2 linked regions of the Homo sapiens genome follow. The protein of the gene in region 1 interacts with the protein of each later gene in a biochemical or structural test. Each region holds a gene or a part of one and is shown on either strand. Other genes may lie near its edges.

Region 1 (3,826 bases):
GCTCAAGACCAGCCTGGTCAATATGGCAAAACCCTGTATCTACTAAAAATACAAAAAATTAGCTGGGCGTGGTGACACACGCCTATAATCCCAGCTACTCGGGAAGCTGAGACAAGAGAATCGCTTTAACATGGGAGGCGGAGGTTACAGTGAGCCAAACTCGTGCCACTGCACTCCAGCCTGGGCGTCAGAGTGAGACTGTCTCCAAAAAAAAAAAAACAAAAACACAAAAACACACACACACACACTCTTCAGATTTTCAGATTTCCTGGGCTCTTCTGAAAAATCAGGAAGACCTGCCCATTCTGTACCTTCATTCTGCCCAGCTATCACTTCCTGGCTATCTTCCCTCCTTTCCTGATGTGTATGTCTGATTTGGATCCTGATCTAGATCAGTGGGAAGCATCCACCCCCACCAACACACATACATGTGCATAACCTATTATATATAAGGTGTAGCCAAAGGGAGTGTGTTGTATTTGTGAAAGACACTTGTGGATGCAGAACAAAGGTGGGAACACTGGTCCTTACAATCTGCAACCTTCTACCAGGAATGTAGACAATCCATTTGGGCATCCAAGGGAACACTGTAAGTCCTAGAGGAGCCAGGCCATTTCCCTAGGGACCGTGAAGCTTGTGAGAGAATGCATGTGGGTGCCTTTCCTCAGCCTGACTTGCTTTCTGGAGTAAATTAGGGATTACCAAACCACTACTTCATGTAAAAATGTGGTCTTAAGTATTAAATCAGCAAAACAACACAAAATGTCACTAGACATTAAGCTTAAAAATGACATTTCTTTTGAACAGCGCTTGTTTGTATTTTAATAATAATGTATTTATATTAATGTGGATTAGGTACATATTTAAAACAGTAATAATGGTTGTGAAATAAAATTTCCTTTAAAGATAAAATAAAAAGCCAGGTGCAGTGGCACACACCTGTAGTTCCTGCTACTCTGGAGGCTGAGGCAGGAGGATTGCTTGAGCCCAGGAGTTTGAGACTTGCCTGGGCAATATAGTGAGACTCCCATCTCTGATAATATAGAAAAAGTAAAATTAATAAAATAAAAAATATACAAAAAAAGGAAATGAGAAGGGAATCAAAACAATACACTACAAAAAATAAAAATAAATCAAAAATAAAAAGTTCATGTCTAAAAGATCACATTAAATTACAATGCAAAGGTTTGGTCCTTCAGCTGACCACATTTTTAAAAAATCCACCTTTTAGCCCCAAAGATTTTCAAACATATTTCATTTACATATTTGCATTACATAAAAAGTTACAAATTATAAAGAAATTATTCATAAACTCTTCCAGAGAACATTAAACAAACCATAGTACATAATTGGTCTCTACTATCATTTTCTTACAGAAAGGAAAACTTACAACAAAAAGAAAATATTGTCTACAGACAATACTATGGCTGGTATATTTGAGTATTTTCAACTGAAACTTGAAATGGTCATCAGAGTTAAAAACACTTTAAAATAAGGATTAAAAGTCATCCATTAAGACAGCAATAGTCTTACCTGTAACGAACATGAAAAGAATGGTCTTCTCTCATGCTTATCAAATTTTCCTCCATCGAGTCATATTATAAGCTGAATAAAATAAAATTATTTTATTTTGTGCCAATCCAGTCCTTTACAATGTAGAATTGTTTGTAGAACATTGTCCGGTTAGTATATTAATGAGTTGGTGTTAATACATCCTAAGCTCCTGATTCTTCTTTATTAATAATGAAAGGAGGTCAATGTCAGACAGCTTAAAGGTTCAAAATGTATCCCAAATCCTTGCATCTCTGGCCCTTTCAGCAGCACTTCAGCAACATTTCTGCAAAAGGAATACAAGATGCTTTGCTTGAAGTCCTATTTTCAAAGAACAACCTACAGTAACCCTGAGCTGTACATAATCACAAGCTAACTCTGCAGACTGCTGTCATGTCAATCAATACAGAAGATAGCACAGGGCTTAACTGTCATCATGGAGCTTCTAAATAGGGGTGGGAATAGATGAGATTTGAGAACTGTAATTTTTAAAATATGTTTGAAATTTAATACTTTTATGTAATATTTTCTGCTATAAACAAAAAAGAACAGTATGTATCATATTAGCATCTAAAAACAAAATTGCTGCTTCAAACTTTTAAAAACTACTATTAACAAATCAAATGAAAATTCAATAATTATTTGAAATAGTCAACTCCAAACTCAGTAAATTTATTTCTTCAAAGAAGATATCACACTGATACTTCGGTTATAGTTGGATTCATTTGCTTTCAAAATATATTCTACTTAAACTCTTTAAGGTCTTTAAAATGTTTTTTATTAATATTGGGTAGGTACAAAAGACATTTGGGAAATATGTATATGGTAAAAAGAATGACACAACAAACATTTATATAACACCATTCAGTCTAAAATAAGAACATTACCTGCCTTTAAAGTCTCCTGGGTAGTCCAACCTAACCCATCTCCTTCCTTTTCCCTCTAAGGTGATTTCTAAACTGTATTTTGTTCCTTATTCCTTTGCTTGTCTTTACAACTTTAACACGAATGTCAGTATAGTCCTAAATAAGATACCATTTAGTTTTATATGATTTTGCTGAACGTTGTTTCTGAGATTTTTCTCAATTGTTGTGCATAGCTACAACTTGCATGTATATTCCATTGTATACCAAATGTATTTTTCATTCTGCTGTTGATGGACATTTGGATTATAGTTTTTTGGATTGCTGTTACTAACAGTATTAATATTCATGCCACTGCACTCCAGCCTGGTTGACAGAGCAAGACCCTGCCCCAAAACAAAATGAAACAAAAAACTACCATGAACACTGATATTAATAACTCAATGTACTAGTTAGGGCCAGGTGCAATGGCTCATGCCTGTAATCCCAGCACTTTGGGAGGCAGACACAGGTGATCACTTGAGGCCAGGAGTTCAAGACCAGCCTAGCCAACACGGTGAAACCCTGTCTCTACTAAAAATACAAAAGTTAGCCAGGTGTGGTGATGCAAGCCTGTAATCCCAGCTACTCAGGAGGCTGAGGCATGAGAATCACTTGAACCCGGGAGGTGGAGGTTGCAGTGAGCCTGAACCCGGGAGGCGGAGGTTGCAGTGAGCCAAGATTATGCCACTGCGCTCCAGCCCAGGCGACACAGTGCAACTCTGTCTGCCCCCACCAAAACAACAACAACAACAACAACAAACCCTCAATGTACTAGTTAAGCAGCTAAAGAAAGAATAAGCAGATGAAAAATAATAAAGAGAAGTTCAGAGAAAAGGAGGACAAAATGAGCAGCTCTATAATATATCTAATAGGAGGGTGAGAAAGAAAAAGAGAGGAATAAAGGTAAAATCTTCAGTGATAAAGACTGAGAATATTTAAATAAAAATGAATCCATACCGATACATTAGAGAGAGCTACAGCATATCAGACATAAACTATAACCTCTGAGATAACAGTTGAGAAAGACAAAGAAGGATATACATATACATATATGAGATAAATTGGTAGATATACAATCATAAAGTCCTGGAATCTCAGTGTTATAAACAATCCTAGAGGTCAGTTAGTCCACTATCTTACTATAGCATTCCTACATAGGTCATAAAGCAGCTAATCTTAATTTTGAATATTCCTGTAAGAAAATCGTTCCATACTTTGAGCAATTCTTCCATTTCTACCCATTTGTTCTACTTCTTCCTTCTGCTGCCATATACAATAAAGCCTAATTCCTCTTCTATATAACATCCTTTTAAGTATTTCAGCTATATCATAAACCAGACTAATGAATACTCACTGCTCTGTTAATTAAG
Region 2 (3,826 bases), 710 kb from region 1:
ACATTTGCTGTACATTATACAAAAGGGTCTGTAGGTTGAAGTGAACGTAACTTTCCACACAAGCAAAATGTAAATCTGCAAAATGAATCATGATCACATATCACTCATATGCAGATATAACATAAAACCTAAGGTTCAACAATACTATTACACCAAAAGACTAGACTTTCAGGAAACCCTTCTACCTAAACCCATTCTCAGACAAAGGCTAAAGCACATTCTGCAAAGGCAAAAGGAAACAGAAGACAGTATTTCCAGAAAAGACTAGTTACAAACAGGAGCAAACCTGGGCTCTTTACTCACCATTTTAATACTGCCGCCAACTATAACAGATTAAAAATGTACACATGACAAAGTGGAAAAAAGTCCCAAAATGCAACAGTTTCAGCAAAAGAACATACTGGCTAAGGATTACTACAGTTAACATCGGTACAGTAAAAACGATGGCAAACAGGGATTTGGCACCACATTTACAAAGTAAAAGCATGCACTGTTAATACACTTTAGATGTTTCTCAACAGAAAAGGCCATGAAGATGGAAAACAAGAGGCACCATGTACAAAACTCCCTATAACTGAGACAAACAAGCAAGAATCAAAGTGGTCAATTTAGTAAATATGTAGCAGCAAAGTCACTGGTTCTGTTTGGAATTTAGCAATTTGCATTTCTGATTGGCAGCTGCCCTGGGTGTGTCTGTATCCAAGAAGCTGACTTTATCATACTACATCAGCAGTAATTTGGTAATCTGCACAAACAAGGTTAACCTTCAACCATAAGCTTAAAGAAAAGAGAGAACTAGAATCTTATTGCAGAACTTTCCAATGTAATTACCATATGGAAACCATAATGGTACTTTGAGCAGGATAATAACATAAATTTCATTTAAAAAGTTGTATTTATAGCCCCAGTAACCGGAAAGAATTATAAGTAATTATGGAAGTATTATATTCTGACCATACCAAGAGTTAAAAACAAAGAGTTCCTACTAAAGAGGAATATTTTCAAGATGATCTGGTCACATCATGTGCATAGTTAAGATTGTTTGTTTTAATAAAGATTCTTTTGCAAATAAAGAAATAAAATTTAGTAAAGTTATTCTTCTCTTGATGAAAAAACCTTAAAAATGAACCACTGGTGGTTTAAGAAGGGGGGAAAAAAAGAGTAAGCTACATATTGAAGTTCTAGAATGCAGCACCTCAACTTCACATCTTCCATAAGCATTTAAGATTAAGAAATCCAAGTGATGTCTTGACGATCGAATCACACTTTATAGTTCTTCCAATTCCAATGTCTGACTTTAGCATCTCATGTCAATTAAAAGTTCCCTAATACAAAATATTGTGCTAAAGAGTGCTAAGATTCTGCATGCTGCTGCCATTCCCTGGTCCCGTTCATGCTTGTAGCTGCCCCATGAGACAGCAAAAGGTGTCTGGTCTCAACACTCCACACTGTAGTAACTAGAAGAGAAGAATATTCTTAATTAGAAAAAGTTTAAAAACCAAGAGACATCACTGTAGCACTATAACTACCTTGTATGAAACTTTACCTTTCACTAACATCCATGCTTCTCAATAAAGTCCACATTCCTTTAAGTTGTTTTTAATGATGACATCTGTAACAGCATCAAAAACAAACTGCACATTCTTCGTGTCTGTGGCACAGGTGAAGTGAGTATAGATCTCCTTGGTATCTTTTCTTCTGTTCAGATCTTCAAACTGGCATTGAATATAGGCAGCTGCCTCTTCATATGTATTGGAACCTAAAACGGACACCCAGTACTCTCAGTTCAAATTGTAACAGCTGCCTGAACTCAACTAAGTCAGACCATTACCATTTACTTATGGAGAGGGAACATAACCCAATTAAATATGAGTAGAATTCTCTATTTCTATAATCATTAGGTGTTTCTATAATTAGGTTCTTCGTGAGAGTGGACTCTCATGGTAACAAAATAAAATCATCAAACACAAAGATTGAGGAAAACATAACGTTAAATTTCTCTTTACCTTTTCATTTAGACTTTTCAGCTAAAAAAATCTAGAAAGTATAAAAGGAAACTAGGAAAGTAGGAAGGTGCATTTCTAGGGAACACAACTGCTTAAAAGGTCTGAGAGAGGCTGTGTTCCTTGGAGTGATCTTGGAATAAAAATTCAACAGGGTAGTGCTTGCTTTGGTAGCACATGTACTAAAATTGGAACAATACAGAGAAGATTAGCACAGTCCCCGCGCAAGGATGACACGCAAATTCGTGAAGCGTTCCATATTTTTTAAAACAACTGGGTCGGATCATGCTAAAAGGAGATAATATTACTCTGCTACAAAGTGTCTCCAACTAGAAAGGATCAATGAAGTGAGAAATTGTTGAGAAGGATACAGTTTGCTTTTAGATGTCCTTTTTCCAATATGAACATTCATTCATAGTGTTTTGATTACCCTTATGTTACTAAAAGATGGCAATAAACGCTATGGGATTGTTTGTATTAAAACAAAAAAAAAAGGAATTCAACAAGGTAAATTGTTCTTTTCAAAATCATTCCACAGTTTTAAAGAGGTTTAGCTTCAAAGCCTTAAGGTAATAATTTAAATAAGGAAAAGCAATACACTTTAAAAGAGTGAATTTTAGGGTTTCCCAATTATATCTCAATGAAGCTATTATTTTTTACAAAAAGAAAGGTGACAGGAACCAAAAGCAAAGCCTGTCTCAACAATATTTGTAATTAATACCCTTAAATCACCTGCTTTTTACACCATCTTGTCTACTTATAGAACCTTTAGAGTAGCCTTAGAAACTGGCTATAAAGCCAGGGAAACGCAACAAAGACAATTCATTATTCCAATAAACTACAGGCTATTTTCAGTAACGTGAAGCATAACAAAAATATCAATAACAAAGATATAAAGAAGACCAGGTAACAAAACGGAGCTTAAGAAAAAAGGAGCTGGGTGCGGTGGCTCACATCTGTAATCCCTGCACTTTGGGGGCCGCAGCAGGTGGATCGCTTGAGGTCAGGAGTTCAACACCAGCCTGGCTAACTTAGTGAAACCACATCTCTACTAAAAATCAAAAAATCATTAGCTAGGCCTGGTGGTGGGCACCTGTAGTAGAGCTGAGGCACAAGAAGCACTTGAATCTGGGAGGTGGAGGTTGCAGTGAGCCGAGATCATGCCACTGCATTTCTGTCTGGGAGACAGAGCAAGACACTGTCTCAAAAAAAAAAAAGGAAAGGAAAAGAATATTAATTAAAATATTTAAAGAACTGAAGGAAAACAGCTTTGTAGGTGCTTGAAGCAGGTTCTTAAAATCTGGAAAACAACCTCTGTAAATTAAAGGAGGCAGATGAGTGAAAAGTGAATTTTGTCTGCTAGGAACAGATAATAATACCTGGCAAATAAGGACCGTAAGAATCTGTACACAGAATGAAGACAATGGAGGATAGGCTTGGAAGTTAACAACAACAAAGAAAATGGAAATGATATTAAAGGCTCTTTGCTTTGTGTGAAGACTCTAAGCTGGGCCTTCAACATTAATGCCAATTATTTTACTTGTCTTACATCTCTCTCCCCCAATCCTAAAACTTGGTTGCTTTCTATAAACTCACCTTATTCTCACCTCCCTCTGTTCTTTACTCTGAACAGGTAACCACATTTCCAACTTCCTTGATAAAACAGAGGCCATGAGGATTAAACTACATCTCAACTTTTTGGCCTACCACCTCACTCAAAATGTTACATATCTGCACTTATTTGTACTTCTGGTCTTAGAGGTGTCTTACTTCTTGCTCAAAAATCAATTGCTCTACCTATACTCTTTTAAAAAAATTATTGA

What was found.
Region 2: the proteins of GPSM2 (region 1) and GNAI3 form a complex in vitro, tested with the Homo sapiens proteins (one study listed by BioGRID).

Annotation. Positions count from the first base shown.
Region 1 is NC_000001.11:108,883,286-108,887,111, reverse strand, and holds part of GPSM2 (G-protein-signaling modulator 2), read right to left. Parts: intron 1,838-3,826; 5' UTR 1,590-1,837; coding exon 1,534-1,589; intron 1-1,533. UniProt on the Homo sapiens protein: Plays an important role in mitotic spindle pole organization via its interaction with NUMA1. Required for cortical dynein-dynactin complex recruitment during metaphase. Plays a role in metaphase spindle orientation.
Region 2 is NC_000001.11:109,589,976-109,593,801, reverse strand, and holds part of GNAI3 (guanine nucleotide-binding protein G(i) subunit alpha-3), read right to left. Parts: intron 1,760-3,826; coding exon 1,569-1,759; 3' UTR 1,547-1,568; intron 1,458-1,546; 3' UTR 1-1,457. UniProt on the Homo sapiens protein: Heterotrimeric guanine nucleotide-binding proteins (G proteins) function as transducers downstream of G protein-coupled receptors (GPCRs) in numerous signaling cascades.